Regions from separate parts of the Homo sapiens genome. Here region 2 is linked to region 1. Evidence: fine-mapped QTL for protein levels in blood plasma. A gene starts in region 1. The other region holds a variant in brackets. All regions are shown on one strand. Distances are from middle to middle.

The links. PIP is the chance, under the fine-mapping model, that this variant and not a neighbour inherited with it causes the effect. Protein levels are from antibody-based Olink assays in UK Biobank. Linkage for the fine-mapping came from a reference panel and not from the study's own genotypes, which makes the PIPs less certain.
Region 2: its variant is fine-mapped to the plasma level of the LGALS4 protein (UK Biobank, PIP above 0.99).

Annotation. Positions count from the first base shown.
Region 1 is chr19:38,810,502-38,818,499 of GRCh38, forward strand. It overlaps LGALS4 (galectin 4), which reads right to left and starts at 2,444. Exons shown (of 10, transcript NM_006149.4): 1 at 2,341-2,444; 2 at 1,930-2,018. The coding sequence starts at 2,385. ECH1 (enoyl-CoA hydratase 1) reads right to left here. Exons shown (of 10, transcript NM_001398.3): 4 at 6,950-7,074; 5 at 6,815-6,863; 6 at 6,564-6,628; 7 at 5,952-6,022; 8 at 5,783-5,854; 9 at 5,356-5,506; 10 at 4,921-5,216. The coding sequence ends at 5,112. RefSeq lists a silencer at 5,254-5,454.
Region 2 is chr19:38,870,765-38,879,499 of GRCh38, forward strand. It overlaps RINL (Ras and Rab interactor like), which reads right to left and starts at 7,511. Exons shown (of 12, transcript NM_001195833.2): 1 at 7,468-7,511; 2 at 5,929-6,017; 3 at 5,567-5,726; 4 at 3,122-3,224; 5 at 1,034-1,106; 6 at 883-947; 7 at 314-463; 8 at 1-228. The coding sequence starts at 5,978. SIRT2 (sirtuin 2) reads right to left here. Exons shown (of 16, transcript NM_012237.4): 15 at 8,670-8,735; 16 at 7,796-8,546. The coding sequence ends at 8,391. RefSeq lists enhancers at 1-469, 7,888-8,007, 8,048-8,147 and a silencer at 7,298-7,347. The variant T/C (reference allele first, on the strand shown) is at 5,707.

The sequences.
Region 1 (7,998 bases):
ACAGGCACCCGCCACCATGCCCAGCTAATTTTTTGTATTTTTAGTAGAGACGGGGTTTCACTGTGTTAGCCAGGATGGTCTCGATCTCCTGACCTCGTGATCCGCCCGTCTCTGCCTCCCAAAGTGCTGGGATTACAGACGTGAGCCACCACGCCCAGCCAGATGCGATTTTGCCATTTTGGCCAGGCTAGTCTCGAGCTCCTGACCTCAGGTGATCTGCCTGGCTTAGCCACCCAAAGTGCTGGGATTACAGGCGTAAGCCACCATGCCCGGCCAGGCCACCCTATTTAAGGGGACAATTTAAAGGGAACCTCTGTCCGCACATACACTCCCCATCTCCCTTCCCTCCTCATTTTCTTCATAGCACTTAATATCATCTGACATCTTACATATTTGACTTTTTTTTTTTTTTTTTTTGAGACAGAGTCTCACTCTTGTTGCCCAGGCTGTAGTGCAATGGCACGATCTCGGCTCACCGAAACCTCCACTTCCCAGGTTCAAGTGATTCTCCTGCCTCAGCCTCCTGAGTAGCTGGGATTACAGGCATGCGCCACCACGCCCTGGTAATTTTGTATTTTTAGTAGAGACAGGGTTTCTCCATTTTGGTCAGGCTGGTCTTGAACTCCCGATCTCAGGTGATCTGCCTGCCTAGGCCTCCTAAAGTGCTGGGATTACAGGCCTGAGCTACCGCGCCCGGCCTGGACTTATTTTTTATGTTTCCCCTACTAGGACATCAGCTCCACGAGGGCAGGGGTCTCTGTCCTGTTCACTCCTCCATCCCTAGTGCCAGGACACAGAATAGGCACTCAGTGAAGAAGTAAACAATAAATAAATAAACAACAGGCTGGGCAGAGTGGCTCATACCAGTGCCTGATCCTCCCAGCACTTTAGGAGGCCGAGGCTAGAGGATCGCTTGAGCACAGGAGTTCAAGACCAGCCTGGGCAACATAACAAGACTTTGTCTCTACAAAACAAATAATAATAATAAATAAAAATTAAAAATTAAATTAGTTGGGCATGGTGGCACATGTCTGTAGTCCCATCTGCTTGGAAAGATGAGGTAGGAGGATCACTTTAGCCCAGGAGTTGGAGGCCGAAGTGAGCTATAATATTGTGCCACTGCACTCCAGCTTGGGCAACAGAGCAAGACCCTATCTCTAAGGAAAAAAAAAGTCCTATGAGGCCAATCATTATCAACGTGTTAAGGCCCTTTTTAAAAAGCTAAGACTGGGCCAGGCGCAGTGGCTCACGCCTGTAATCCCAGCACTTTGGGAGGCCGAGATGGGAGGATCACTTGAGGTCAGGAGTTCGAGACCAGCCTGACCAACATGGTGAAACCCCATCTCTACTAAAAATACAAAAATTAGCCAGTGTGCTGGCACATGCCTGTAATCCCAGCTACTCAAGAGGCTGAGGCAGGAGAATCGCTTGAACCTGGGAGACAGAGGTTGCAGTGAGCCAAGATCATGCCATTGCACTCCAGCCTGGGCGACAAGAGCAAAACTCCATCTCAAAACAAAAAAAAAAACAAAAAAAACAAAAACAGAAAAGAAAAGAAAATGAAGCACAGAGAGGTATAGTCACTTTCACTCTTTCACCAACACAGAGCTGGGGAGTGGCAGAGCTGGGATTTTAACTCGGGGACCCGGCTCTGAGCCTGTGATCTGAATTCCTGCCATTGCACCCATCAGCTTCAGTCTAATGTCCAACTCAGGGACTGCCTCTCACGGTGAGCCCTCCCTGAACCTTCTGGCCCCCACGTCCCCACTCCTGATCTGCCCCAGATTCATCTCTGGCTATTGGGTGGGGCAGAAAAAGAGTCCCCTCTCCACCAGGGTGGGGTAAGGGCAGAAAGCCCCCAACAGCCAGGCCCAGAGCACCCAGTTGGAAGTCCCCTGCCAGCCCGGCCTGGCTTGGGGAGGGTCTTACCGCTTCATGTGCTCGCTGGCCACTCCTTGGATGTAAACAGACATTCCCACGTTGAGCCCGCCCGGGATGGGCTGGTAGTAAGGCAGCGTCTGGAGAAGAGGCCTGGTGAGGGGACTCACAAGCCATCTGCCTGTTGCAGCCTTTACCCCTCCCAGAAAAGCCCCCCAGTCCCTTAAGCAGGAGAGAGGAAACCATGGGGGAGGACCAGGTTGAAGATGACGAGGGCCAACAGTTAGACGTGGACACAGACAGCCTGAGGTCAGGGTAGGAGTAAATCGAGGGTCGGGGTCAGCTTTGGGTAAATCAGACCACAGAGTCAGATGGGGCCCCCCAGGATCAGAGTGGGGAAAATTGGTGTGAGGGCTTATGGACGGAGCTGCGGGCGGAGTGGGGCCTGAGCTGGCATCTCACCGGGTTGTAGGTGGGCTGGTAGCCCGGTGCGGGGACATAGGCCATCGCTCGAGGCTGCGCTAGTGGCTGGTCCTGTGAGAAGAGCTGCAGGAGTGGGAGATGGTGGCGGATGGCAGGCGGTGGTGGCTCTTATACCCAGGGTAAGGGAGTGGCTGGCAGGGGAGGGTCCACAGGGCTCCTCTTCTGGGACTCTCAGGCTGTCGGCTTCTCCTAGAGCGCACCCTAGTCTCCCTTCCCTTGCCAGCTTCCCTGGTGACCAGCCAGGACCCAAATCACCTGGGTCCCCTCCCCTACGCCCTCCTGCAAAGAGGAAGTGCTCATGAACTTCGGCCCTGCCAGGGCCTTATCAGAGCCCATAAAACCCTGCCCAGACTTCTGTTGGCAGAGGGAGGGTGAGACCAGGCAGGGCAGGGCAGGCTGCAGGAATGACCCAGGACAGGTGGGCAGCGGAGGAGGAGAACGCGGAGGAACTGCAAATTCCTGCCTCTCCCAGCAACTGTGAAGGGACCTACGTTGATTGCGTGCCCACCACACATCTTTACCACGTATGTTGTATTGTAGGGAGAGTGGTTTAGATTACTAGTGTGTGGAGCCAGAGGTTCTAGGTTCAAATCCTGCCTTTGCCACTTCTCAGCTGTATGATCATGGGTCAGTGCCTTACCCTCAATTTGCCCATGTGCTCATCTGTAAAATGGGGATATAGTAGTATCGGCTGGGTGCAGTGGCTCATGCCTGTAATCCCAGCACTTTGACTGGCCGAGGTGGATGGATCACCTGAGGGCAGGAGTTCGAGACCAGCCTGGCAAAATCCCAGTCTCTACTAAAAATACAAAAATTAGCCAGGCATGGTGGTGGGTGCCTATAATCCCATCTACTTGGAGGCTGAGGCAGGAGAATCACTTGAACCTGAGTGGAGGAGAGTGCAGTGAGCCAAGGTCACGCCACTGCACTCCAGCTTGGATGACAGATGGAGACTCTGTTTCAAAAAAAAAAAAAAAAAAAAAGGAATTCATAAGAGAGGAAACAAGTATTGAATAGCTATCAAAATATTTTAAAAATGAATTTGTGATCCAGTAATGCCTGTATGTTATTAATCTGCCAAATAAGTTCTAGCTGTGGGTCCAACTGCCACTCAGAAAAATAAATAAATAAAGAAAAGAGTAGTATCAACCTTAGGCTGGGTGTGGTGGCTTGTGCCTACAATCCCAGCAATTTGGGAAGCTGAAGCAGGAGGACTGCTTGAGCCCAGGAGTTCAAGACCAGCCTGGGCAACATAGTGAGACCCCCATCTCTACAAAAATAAAATAAAAATTAGCTGGGCATGGTAGCACACATCTGTATTCCTAGCTACTCAGAGGCTGAGGCAGGAGGATCGCTTGAACCCAGGAGTTAAGGTTACAGTGAGCTATGATCATGCCACTGCACTCCAGCCTGGGTGACAGACTAAGAGTCCGTCTCTAAAAATAGCAACAATAATAGTCATAATAATAATAATCATAATAGTATCAACTTCATAGAGTCCTTGATCATTAAGATAATAAATGCTCAGAACAGGACATAGCATATAGAAGTCATTAACTTAATGCTTGGTCTCTTGCAGTCATTCCAAACATAAATCCGGAAGATTGGGATGATATATGGATAAAAAATCCCAAAGTTTTGTTTGCTCATTTTTGAGACAGAGTCTTGCTCTATCACCCAGGCTGCAGTGCAGTGGCACCATCTCAGCTCACTGCAACCTCCACCTCCCAGGTTCAAGGGATTCTCCTGCCTCAGCCTTCTGAATAGCTGGGATTACAGGCTTACTCCACGCCTGGCTAATTTTTGTATTTTTAGTAGAGACCAGGTTTTGCCATGTTGGCCAGGCTGGTCTCAAACTCCTGACCTCAAGTGATCCACCTGCCTCAACCTCCCAAAGTGCTGGAATTACAGGCATGAGCCACTGCACCCGGCCAGAAACCCCAAAGTCCTTTTTTGTTTTGTTTTTTCTTTTTTTGAGACAGAGTCTCACTCTGTCACCCAGGCTGGACTGCAGCAGCATGATCTCAGCTCACTGCAAACTCACCTCCTGGGTTCAAGGATTCTCCTGCCTCAGCCTCCCGAGTAGCTGGGACTAGAGGCACCTGCCACCACACCTAGCTAATTTTTGTATTTTTAGTAGAGACTGGGTTTCAACATGTTGACTAGGCTGGTTGCAAACTCCTGAGCTCAGGCAATCCACCTGCGTCAGCCTCCAAAAGTGCTGGGATTACAGGTGTGAGACGCCAGCATCAGATCCCATGTGCTGTGCAGTGAGAGGTGCCAGGCAGGGCACGAACGCCACCCTCAACCCCAGGGCAGGCAGGGAGACCAGGAAGCCTTGCAACCCAGAGGGACCCCAGCGACTTTTGCTCACTCCCTCCGCCCCGGAATTCCTTGTGCCCCTCGCCTGCCCGCTGCCAGTCTGAATGGCCATCACCTCCATGCCACCCATTCCCATGCATCCAACCTCTAGCCCCAGCCTTCAGGACTGCAGTCTCTGGAGCCCCTAGGTGCATCCCAGCCCCTCCCACCTCTCCTCTATCCAAGAAGGGCACCAGGTTCTTTACTTTGCTTTATTGTTTGTGGGGTGAAGATAAGGCCTTGGGCTTGAGAAACTCATTGTCATAAAGTTATAAACTGGGAAACTGGGTCAGAAGGCATAGAAACAACTGTCATCGCCCATCCTCCCTTTCTGTGGATGAGGCGGGACAAGGCCGGCCCCCTGGCTGGGGCCTGGGACGCGAGGGCTCTCAGAGCTTGGAGAAGGTGACGGTTTTCAGTTCCTTGTTCTCAGTCGTGGCCTGGACCGACTTCACGAGGTCTTGGGTCTGCAGCATGCTCATGTTCCAGGACGCCTGGTACCGAGGGTGTTGAGAGAGAACGAGGAGAGAGATTAGCAGGGGCCAATCAGGATAAAGCATGAGAGCACCCTGCACCCTGGTTGGTCGCCTGGGGTTAGAGGAGGGCTGTGATTGGTCGGAGCGTGCACCTTACCACGTAGTTGAGGCTCTCGGCCACCGAATGGTCGCGGGAATACAGCAGGTTGACCTTGGTGCTCTGCACCGCCACGGGGCTCTTGCTGGAAATCTCGGCCGCCAGCGCTAAGGCAGCATCCAGCATGACCTCTTTGTCTGGGAACACCCGGCTGCAGTGAAAGAGATCAGGGACCGGGTGGGCTGGGAAGGGCTCTCTCCTCCAGCCTCCCGCAGATGAAGAAGTGGCCACTCACAGAGGAAGGCCCAAGACCCCAGAGAAACAGCCCAATCAGAGCAGGGGGCTGACCCCACAATAAAGAAATGAGCTCACCAAGAAAGGATGCCACTAGGAATTCTAGAGCGAGGAGACAAGGGGACCCGGAGAGGCCTCCAACCCTCCAGGCCTGGCTGCCCCCAGCACTGAGCTACCACGGCCATGGCCCTACCTGACCAGCCCACTGCCCAGGGCCTCGTCAGCCATCATCTTGCGGGCGGTGAAGGCCAGCTCGTTGACCAGGCTGCAAAGGCAAGCGTGCATCAGGAGGCGGCTGCCACCCCGGGGCTGGGAGATGCTCTGGGGTCTCCTGCCCACACCCCCACACCCCCTGCACCCACCTCTGGTTCCCGATGACCTTGGGCAGGCGCTGCAGTGTTCCTACATCGGCAGCCAAACCCACGTCCACCTCCTGGGGGAGGAATCGGGTCAGTGTTTGGTTTCTGCCCAATACTGTGCCCCTCGCAATGTCAACGTCCATGAAATTTCATGTCTACTGGAGAGTCCCGCCCCACCTTCACCCCAGTGACTTCCTCCAAAGTCCCATTCCATTGCCCAGGCAGCTTCTTGACTCAGGCAAGTTCCTTCAACCTAGAATAGAGCCCACCTTCCCACTCATGCACCCTCCCATTCCCTCAGGGCAGCTCCATCTGTGAGAGAGGAACCCTCCTCACCCTACCTGAGACCCCTTTACTGCATCCCCCGGCTCCATCCTGCCTCCCACCCTCACCAGTATGGCCCCAGGAGCAATCTCTGCCTCTGACACCTGCCAGCCTCAACCCCACCTCATACCTTACCCACTCACAACTTCACCTCTTGACTTCCTCTATGGGCAAGTCTTACTTTGTCGGGTTCAACTCCGACTCTTCCATGAAGCCCTCGAGGCTCACTCCAGGCCCCCCAACCTCACCCCACTGCCCAGCTCTAAGCAGGAGCTCGGGAGGATGACTCACCTTCACCTGGAAGAAAGCATCCTGGGCACAGTACCGGATGTCACAGGCGGTGACAAGGTCCACACCTAGGAGGTAGAGGCCAGGGATGCTGAATGACCACCAGAACCAACCCTGGCTCCCGGGAGGTGGGGCTGCCTCTTGGGACACAGTCTGGCCCATGACAGAGCTGAGGCTGGATGCCAGTGGCCGCGGCATCGGAGCAGCAGCCCCACCTGGGGAGCACCCGAGCAGGAGGATAGCCGCAGACTCACCTCCGCCAATGCAGCCCCCATGGACGGCAGCAATCACGGGCTTGGGGCACTGAGAGGGAACAGGAAGAGTGGGGTCAGGGCTGGCCCAGGGGAGGCGCGTATGGAGAAAGATCCCCTCCAGACCCCTAGAGTCACCCTCTCGATGACGTTGAAGGTCTCCTGGTATCGAGTGATGATGTCACGGAGGTACCAGCTGATCCGGGCCACATCATCTCCTTTGGGCTGCAGGATGTCCGAAGCCATGTCCATCAGGTCAATACCTGGTGAGAAGGCATGATGGAGCTCATCCAGGCTCCCAGGCCCCACCCATTGACTCAACCAGGGATCAGAACCCAGGCACAGCAGGTTCGAACCCCCAAACCACCAAGGCGGAAAAAAAACAACTCACACAGGACTTGGTGAGGGATTGATTGCATGTTGGGTGGGAAGGAAATAAAAGCTAATATTTGTGGAGTCATTACTCACAGAATCCTCACAGCAACCGTACCAGCTAGGTCCTATTACTATTTGTGTTACCAATGGGTAAACTAAGGCACAGAGAGGTTAAGCACTTGCCCAAGGGGGTCACACTGGCTGGTGAGTAGTGAGTAATGAACTATTTAAATTAACTCATTAATGTTTTTAGAGACAGGGTCTCACTCTGTTATACCAGCTAGAGTGCAGTGGCACGATCATGGCTCACTGCAGCCTCGAACTCCCAGGTTCAAGCAATCCTCCCACCTCAGCCTCCTGAGTGGCTGGGACTGTGCCGAGGCTGCTCTTGAACTCCTGGGCTCAAGCGATCCTCCCACCTTGGCATCCCAAAGCACTGGGATTACACGTGTGAGCCACCATGCCGCATCAGAAGTAGGATTTTAAAATCTGGAACCATGCAGCTGGCTCCAGAGGCCATGCTTTTCCCCAAGATGCCAGACAGCCTGGGACTCAAGGTCTGCAGCGTGAGCAATGCAGTCAATGGTGGTGATGTTTCCTGAGATGAGAAACATCTCACGATGCAGCAATTTCTGTGGCTCCAACTTCAAGATGATCCTGAATCTGACCTTTCCTGCATCAGTTGTTCTCCATGAGCCCACCCTGCTCTCCCTGTTTCCACCTGTGTCCCCAGTCTATTCCCTACAGGCAGCCAGGGGAAGCCAGTGGACACCTTCTTGGGTCAGATCCTCTTTTTTTTTATTTTATTTTTT
Region 2 (8,735 bases), 61 kb after region 1:
GCCTGGCCACGTAGCTGCTCCGGGCCCTGACCAGAGACTGGACGTGAATGGTGAGCACGTCCTCAGGGCCTTCCTCTTCAGGGTCGTCCTCCCTTCCTTCCTCCTTTCCTTCAAGGTCTTCCTCCTCCTCTTCCAGTAGGCTGGCGAGAGCCGGCCCAGGATGGTCCACTTCCGGGCTGAGCGGGCCTTTCACCCAGGAGACCCCGTGAGGCGCAGGGTTCCTGGGGGCTGGAAGTGAGGAGGGCATTCGGTCGCCTAGAACAGGGGCAGCAGCTCCCTCCCCTTCAGAGGCCCAGGGCCCCGCCCAGCTAACCTGGATCATGTCTCTGAGCAGCCTCTGGCTCTGTTTCTTGAGGGGTCTGCTCCCTCCCCCAGCCTCTGTGGGTCTCCAGGTAGAGCTGGTTCACAATGGAAAGCACCTTCCCTGGGGTGTCCTGTTGGACCCTGCCGATCTGCACAGGATCTGGAGCCAGCAGAAGTGAGAAGGTGTCCTAGGTATCCAAGGGACCAACCCTGGTCCCCTCAAGGCGCCAGGAGACTTACTTCCCAGCTTCATTGCTGGAGGTGCTGAGGCTTAGCTCCTGGCCCCTCCTCAGTCAGACCCAGGAGTCCAGGCCCCTAGTCCCCTTCTCACTTAGGCCCAGGCGTCCGGGACCCCCAGTTCCTTCCTCCTCCAATCCTCTCCTCTGTTAGGACCTAGGAATACAGGCCCCCATCCCCTCCTCCCTCTGGGACTACAAAGTCCAGGCCCCCAGCTCTCTCTAGTCTCCAGTTCTATATTCTCCTCAAACCCAGTAGTCTGGGCCCCAAAGCCCCATTCATTCCCTTGGAGCAAGGAAATTGGCAGGTTGGCTGTGCCCTCTTTAGAGAACCGTGCCTCACCTGTGTGTTCATCTCTGGGCCCTAGAGTGGGAGGGGGCAAGAGCAGGGTTCTGGGCAGAACATCCCTGAGAATAAAGAGGTGGGAGCCACAGTGTCAGTGGGGTGTCTTAGGGAAGGGTCCCCCTTAGTGCCTCAGATGGGTGACCTGTACCTGCTGGCTGATAGAAAGGCCAGGAGATGGGGCAGGTCTGGCATGCAGAGGTTGGAGGATTCCAGGGACACACCTGTGGTGGGGGGAGGAAGAAGGAGAAAGTAAACTTGAGTGGTGGCAGTTTTCTGTCCCCTGGGATGCTCTTGCTCCTCCATTCCTTCAGAATCCCCCCAGGGACCTTCAGAACAGGGAAGTTCCCACTCTTTGGAGTCTCCATCTTTACTCTTGTGTACCACTTATGCCACCAACAAGGATTCATTCATTAGACAAACATTTACTGAGCCCTTAGTCCTTTCTAGGCACTGGAGATACAGTTATCAAAAGGCAGACAAGTTCACTGCCTTCCTGTAGCTTACCTTTTAGCGGGGGGCGGAGGGGGAAAAGGCAGAATATAAATGAATAAACAGTCAGGGTACGGTGGCTCACGCCTGTAATTCTAGCACTTTGGGAAGCCGAGGTGGGTGAATCACCTGAAGTCAGGAGTTCGAGACCAGCCTGGCCAACATGGCGAAACCCCATCTCTATTAAAAATACAAAAATTAGCTGGGCATGGTGGTGGGCGCCTGTAATCCCAGATACTTGGGAGCCTGAGGCAGGAGAATCACTTGAACTCGGGAAGTGGAGGTTGAAGTGACCTGAGATTAAGCCATTGCACTCCAGCCTGGGCGACAAAAGTGAGACTATCTCAATAAATAAATAAATAAATAAATAAAAATAAATTTTAAAAACGAGTAAACAAAGTGGATATTGTATTGAGTGCTATGAAGAAAATGGAGTGATTGAAAGTGACCAAGAGGCCAGGCATGGTGACTTACGCCTGTAATCCCATCACTTTGGGAGGCTGAGGTGGGTGGATCACTTGAGGTCAGGAGTTCAAGCCAGCCTGGCCAACATGGCAAAACCCATCTCTATTAAAAATACAAAAAATTGGGAGGTGGGGGCCTAGGGGAGGGATAGCATTAGGAAGAAATACCTAATGTAGATCATGGGTTGATGGGTGCAGCAAACCACCATGACACCTGTATACCTATGTAACAAACCTGCACATTCTGGACATGTATCCCAAAACTTAAAGTACGATAAAAAATAAATAAATAAAAATAAAAATAAACCAAAAAATTAGTCATGTGTGGTGGTGTGCACCTGTAATCCCAGCTACTTGGGAGGCTGAGAGGCATGAGAATTGCTTGAACCTGGGAGGTAGAGGTGGCAGTGAGTTGAGATTGGGCCACTGCACTCCGCCTGAGCGACAGAGTGAGACTCTGTCTAAAAGAAAAAAGAAAAAGAAAGTGACCAAGGTGCCATCTTTTAACTATGATGGTCAAGAAAGGTTACATTTCTGCAGAGGCCTGGAGGATGGAGACTAAACCAGCCCCTCTAGGAAAAGCATTCATACAGGATGAACCCAAGCAGAGGTCCTGAAGCTGGAACACACTTAGCATGCTAAAGACACACAGAGTGTAACAGTGTGTATGGGGCAGAGTGAATGAGGGGCAATAGATAGAGAGACAGGAAGGAACTACATCACACAGCACCTTATAGATCATGACAAGGAGTTTACATTTTGTATCTAAGGACGTTGCATGCTCTTTGCAGGATTTGGGGCAGGGGTGTATAACATCTGATTGATACTGAAAAATATCTTGGGCTCAGAATGGATTGTGGGAAGGAAAGGGAGACAGGATTGGAAATATTCATCAGATATTTTGGAAACAAAGCTGACAGGTGTTTTTGTTTTGTTTTGTTTTGGCAGGGTTTCCCTCTGTTGCCAAGGCTGGAGGGCAGTGGTGTGATCTTGGCTCACTGCAACCTCTGCCTCCTGGGTTCAAGCTATTCTCGTGCCTCGGCCTGCCAAGTAGCTGGGATTACAGTCGCGCGTCACCAAGCCCGGCTAATTTTTGTATTTTTTGTAGAGACGGGGTTTTGCCATGTTGGCCAGGCTGGTCTCAAAATCCTGGCCTCAAGCGATCCACCCGCCTCGACCTACCAAAGTGCTGGGATTACAGGCGTGAGCCACCGCGCCGGTCCAGCTGATAGTTCTTAGTGATCAATTGACTGTGGGCTGGAACCTCAGGGGAGGTGCCTTACCTCTGGGAATCTTCTGGATCTGGTAGGTATTGACTTCTCCTGGTAAAGGTCCTGACCTCAACACCAGGGCCTGGCTGGGGTCACGTCCTGTGACCAAGAAACTCTGGGGGATAGAGACAAAGGCCAGCGTGACAAAGGTGTGCGCAGATGTCTGTTGCTTTTGCCTGACTAGCATCCATTTCCCTTATTTTGGGTTCCACACCCCAAATTTCCTTTAGGGAAACCCTCTCCCTACTTTCAGTCCATGTGTGTTGGGCTGACTTCCCCCAAGCCCTGGCGGGGTGGGCCCATGACCTGATCTAGCCAACAGGATGAGGGTGCTCTCGGCCCACTGTTTGGTTCAGGGAACAGGCATGTGACTCAAGCTCAGCCAATGGACATCTTCCACAGGATTTTTTTTTTTTTGAGACGGAGTCTTGCCCTGTCGCCCAGGCTGGAGTGCAGTGGCACAATCTCTGCCCACTGCAACCTCCGCCTCCCGGGGTCAAGCGATTCTCCTGCCTCAGCCTCCCAAGTAGCTGGGATTACGGGCGACTGCCACCACGCCCGGCTAAGTTTTTGTATTTTTAGCAGAGACAGAGTTTCACCACATTGGCCAGGCTAGTCTTGAACTCCTGACTTCAAGTGATCCGCTCTTCTCAGCCTCTCATAGTGCTGGGATAATAGGCGTGAGCCACTGCGTGCTGGAGCTCTTTTGGAAAGACTTCATTTGTTACACTGGTGTTGCTAAACTGGTGGGATACAGCTCTGAGCTGGGAAGGATGATACCCTCCTGAGGAGGAAGCTGTGGTAGCCCCCGTTTGCTGTCGTCTCCAAACCTATTCCACATTCCTTGCAGAATTCCTTGTTCACGGCATTAATATACCCAGCCATGAGTATGATTGATATATGGATCATGATTGATATAGGTGGTGGTTCTTAGCTCTGGCTGTATACGTCCCAAGAGAGCTGTTAAAAATATTGCTACAGCCGGGCACGGTGGCTCACGCCTGTAATCCCAGCACTTTGGGAGGCCGAGGCGGGTGGATCACCTGAGGGCAGGAGTTCGAGACCACCCTGGCCAACGTGGTGAATCCCAGTCTCTACTAAAAATACAAAAATTAGCCGGGTGTAATGGCGGGCGCCTGTAATCCCAGCTACTCGGGAGGCTGAGGCAGGAGAATCGCTTGAACCCGGGAGGCAGAGGTTGCAGTGAGCCAATATCGTGCCACTGCACTCCAGCTTGGGTGACAGAGGGAGACTCCATCTCAAAAAATAATAATAAAAATAATAAATAAAAAAATTAAAAATATTGCTACCTGGGCCCCATCCTTTTTTTTTTCTTTTTTCTTTTTTTTTTTTTTTTAATAGAGACTGGGCCTTGCTCTGTTGCCCAGGCTGGTCTTGAACTCCTAGGCTTAAGCGAGCCTCCTACCTCAGCCTCCCAAAATGCTGGGATTACAGGCGTGAGTCAGCACACCCGGCCAGCCATCTATATTTTCTGAATCAGTTGTGAAAACCTTTATTTTGGCCGGGGACGGTGGTTCACACCTGTAATCCCAGCACTTTGGGAGGCAGAGGTGGGTGGATCACCTGACGTCAGGAGTTTGAGACCAGCTTGGCCAACATGGTGAAATCCCATCTCTACTAAAAATACAAAAAATTAGCCGGGCGTTGTGGCAGATGCCTGTAATCCCAGCTACTCAGGAGGCTGAGGCAGGAGAATCGCTTGAACCTGGGAGGCGGAAGTTGCAGTGTGCCGAGATCATGCCATTGCACTCCAGCCTGGGCAACAAGAGTGAAACTCTCAAAATTAAAAAAAAAAAGAAAAGAAAACCTTTATTTTTCCTGTAAAATAAACAGATGCAAGTGGTGCCTCTGTTCTTCCTGCCTGGAATGCACGCAGGTGCTTGGGCCTGGGGCAGCCCCCGGGAAGCTGTGAGAGAAGTCCAAGAGAATTATAGCTATGCTGGCCTCAATGTCACTGCACTGCTGATCTAAAGCCAGCAGCTGCCTTTTTGGTTATGTTAGGAAGATAAATGCCTATTTGTTTAAACCGCTGTAGGACAGGTGTTTGTTATATTCAGTCCCAAATATCCAAAATTCCCCGCAGTTGAAAGCAAAGCCAAGAAATGGGATGAAGAGGAATTTATAAGTGTTCTGAAGTTCAGGATCCAGAGCTTCTTGAAATTACATTTTTTTTTTTTTTTTTTTAGACAGGGTCTTGCTCCATCACCCAGGCTCAAGTGAAGTGGCATGATCTCAGCTCACTGCCGCCTTGACCTCCTGAGCTCAAATGATCCTCCCACCTCAGCCTCATGAGTAGCTAGGACTGCAGGCATGAGCCATTGCACCCAGCAATAAATAGCCTTTTTGGTTTGCCCAATTTGTGTCATGTTTGTCACTAGTAACCAGCAGAGTCCTAATCTAGGGTGTCAGGATGGGCCCCCAGCTGTGAGTACTCACCCCTAGTGGCCACAGCCCCACAAGGGCCTCCGCATCCTGGGTATCCAGCTCTGGCACATGCCACACCCCCCATGTCCTCTGCAGGCGAGTAAGTGGCTCTAGGGTGCTGAGGACCCCTAGAGGGGTCCTGTCTGCTTTGT[T/C]CACCTGTGGTGGGACCAGCCTGGGATGGACAGTGTCCAGGGAGTCAGGGGTCAGAGGTGGGCAGTGGGACAATGAGGTGAGGTCAAAGGTACAGGAAGGGGCAGGCCCAGGGCAGAGGCTCAGAGATGTGATTCAGGATTCTGTAGTGAGGGAGGTATTGGATGGAAAGGGTTTCTGGATGCAGGGGAAGGAGGGCATAGCCTCAGCCCTAGTAGCCTCACCTCACCCCCTCTGTGGGGACTTCAGGTGCCTTGTCTTCTGGCTGGGCCATCGTCAGGTTGCAGGAAGCCAGTGAGTCATGACCTGGCCTCTGGCAGGGAGAAAGGTAAGACTCAAAGCTGCTCTAGCCCTCGGGTCATGTTCAAGATATTTACAATCAATATGGCAGAGACCCTGACCAATCAGAATGGACCCCAGAGGCCGCTTGCCGTGGCAGGGGTTAATTCTTTATTTTATTTTTGAGACGGAGTCTCACTGTATTGCCCAGACTGCAGTGCAGTGGCACGATCTCAGCTCACTGCAACCTCCGCCTCGTAGGTTCAAGCGATTCTTGTGCCTCAGTCTCCCGAGTAGTTGGGATTACAGGCGTGCACCACCACGCCTGGGTAATTTTTGTATTTTTTAGTAGAGACAAGGTTTTGACGTGTTACCCAGGCTGGTCTCAAACTCCTGACCTCAAGTGATCCCCCCGCCTCGGCCTCCCAAAGTGCTGAGATTACAGGCATGAGCCACCACACCCGGCCGGCAGGGGTTAAATCTTTAGTACCGGATGGTGGGGAATCTGGGGATCCCAGGAGAGAGGCCAGTGTGTCTTGCGGTGTGGGGAGAGGACTCAAAACAATAGCTCTTTACTGAAGTGGTAGGAAATATGTTAAGATTTTTAACAGCCATGGGGGCTGTGTAAATGTGGGCCAGCCCTTGGCAAAACCCAGTCAGCGCCTGGAAAAGTTCTTGGCCCAGAGTAGGCAGTCCCTATATCTGGAAAGGTAATAACATCCCCTCTTCCTCCCTTCCCACACCATGGAGGGGCCACTGAATCTCTTCCCCCAGCATTTTATTATGAAAAATTTCAGACATAGAGAAAAGCTGAAAGAATTGTACAGGAAACATCCCTATGCCCACTACCAAGATTCTACCATGAACATTTTACTCATCTTGCTTTATCACACATCTGTTCCTCTCTCTCTTCATCCACCCATCAGGCCCCAGCTCCTAACCAGGTACAGAGTCCTACGTAGGTTATCACTTAGGGTGGCACTTATCCCAGCAGCAGTCCCAGGAGCAGGAGACCTGGATCGGGGGAGGATCCATCCTCCCTCCCTCCCTCCCTCCCTTCCTTCCTTCCTTCCATCCATCCAGTATTTACTGAATACAGGCTGGAATTAGGTGCCTCTGCCCTGGAGAGAGGGTGATGAACAGGACAGGCTCCTCCCCTCAGGGCCTTCCATTCTTGTTTGGGGCAGGTGTAGCATATGGATAATAGGCAGCTAAACAAATACATTAGGCCATTGACCAGAAGGCCAGGGTGTTATTAGGAAGGAGGGAGGTGGGCAGGGAGGCGCAGGTGCCCTGCCCAGGCAAGAGCAGGAAGGAAGGGAGGGGAGGGGAGGGGAGAGGGAAGCAGATGCCTGCTTGTGTACCGTGGCAGGAGAGGAGGCTGTGGGCAGTGCGTGGCAGGGGTGGGTCAGGGCAGCTGCCTCATACCAAAGGGAGGCAGCAGGGGCTGAAGATGCCAGATGCTCGGTTCCTGGGGGCCCTACCTGTTCTCGGAGGAGAGGCCTGCAGTAGCAGGAAGTGGAGAGAGGAAGCTGAGCAGGCAGGGGGAAGAGGCGGGGCTGGGGTATCTGAAGTCAACTTTCCTCCCTCTTTCTGGGGCCTCAGGCCTTTAGTGACGGGGCTTAGAGGAAGGGACACTGGCAGGCTGGGAGTCCAGGGGTCAGAGCCACGAGGGCCCCCGTGAGGACCCTCTTGTTACCCCTCACTCTGGATCCCGGAGACTTTCTGGTTCCTTAGTGGCCCAAGATCTAACCCCCTCCCTTCAGAGATTTCCCTGGGTGCCCACAGAAAGAAACAGGAGGCCAGACCGGATTGTTAGTTGTTTTTGTTTTTAATTTGTCTCCAATAAGCAATGTCTTCTGCCCATCCAGCATGGGAAGTGGGTCCCACGTGAAGGGGGCCCACCACCCACTTTGGGAGCTGAAGGCAGAGACTCGGGAGCCCTCCCGGCTCAGACTCCCCCTACGCTGGGTGTGGGTTATATTCAGAGGCCCACACCCACACTGGGGTAGGTTAGGTATGGTTTACTTAGCCACAGGCCCCCGGGGGCAGGAGACAGAGTGGGGGCCCGAAGCTCCCTGTCCTGGAAGAGTTAAAAGTTCTGGGGTAGCCCTGGCCCCGTGGGGGCAGTTAGAGATGAGGGAGGTTACTCCTTAGCCCAGGAGTGGTTAGAGACAGTGGGGCTGGTAGAGATGCCTGTTTAAGCCTTGGCCTCTAGGAGGTGTTAGAGATTTGCTGGGGTTGGGGGCCAGGGTTGCTGGGACCCCAGTTTTGGGGAGGGAGCTGTAAGAGATTGGGGGATGTTCTGAGCTCCCCAGACAAGAACTGCTGGTTAAGAGGGGGCCAGGCCCGGTTGGGGCTCAGCTGTCCCTGAGGAGCTCGGCATCCCGCCTGGGAGATGCAGCTGTCACTGGGGTTTCTCCCTCTCTGTTGTCCTGGCCTCGTCCTTGGCAGGTGGCGGGGACTTCTTGGGGGAAGCTGAAGTGCTGGGGTTGGGGACCCCCGCCCCCGACTGGGCATCTATGCTGGCGTGCTCCCTCCGGACAAGGTCCTCCAGCTCCTTCTGCAGGAGCAAAGGTCACAGAAGTCAAAGGTCACTGTGCATCATGGGGTCAGAGGACCCATGGGGTGGGGAGAGGGTCCAGGGATGGGGCTCAGGACAGGCTGGGGTTGCTCAGCTCCTCACCTTCCATCCAAGGAGCTCAGCAAGGGCCAGGCAGCCCTGGTCGCATTCACCCAGCCAGGCCACGTC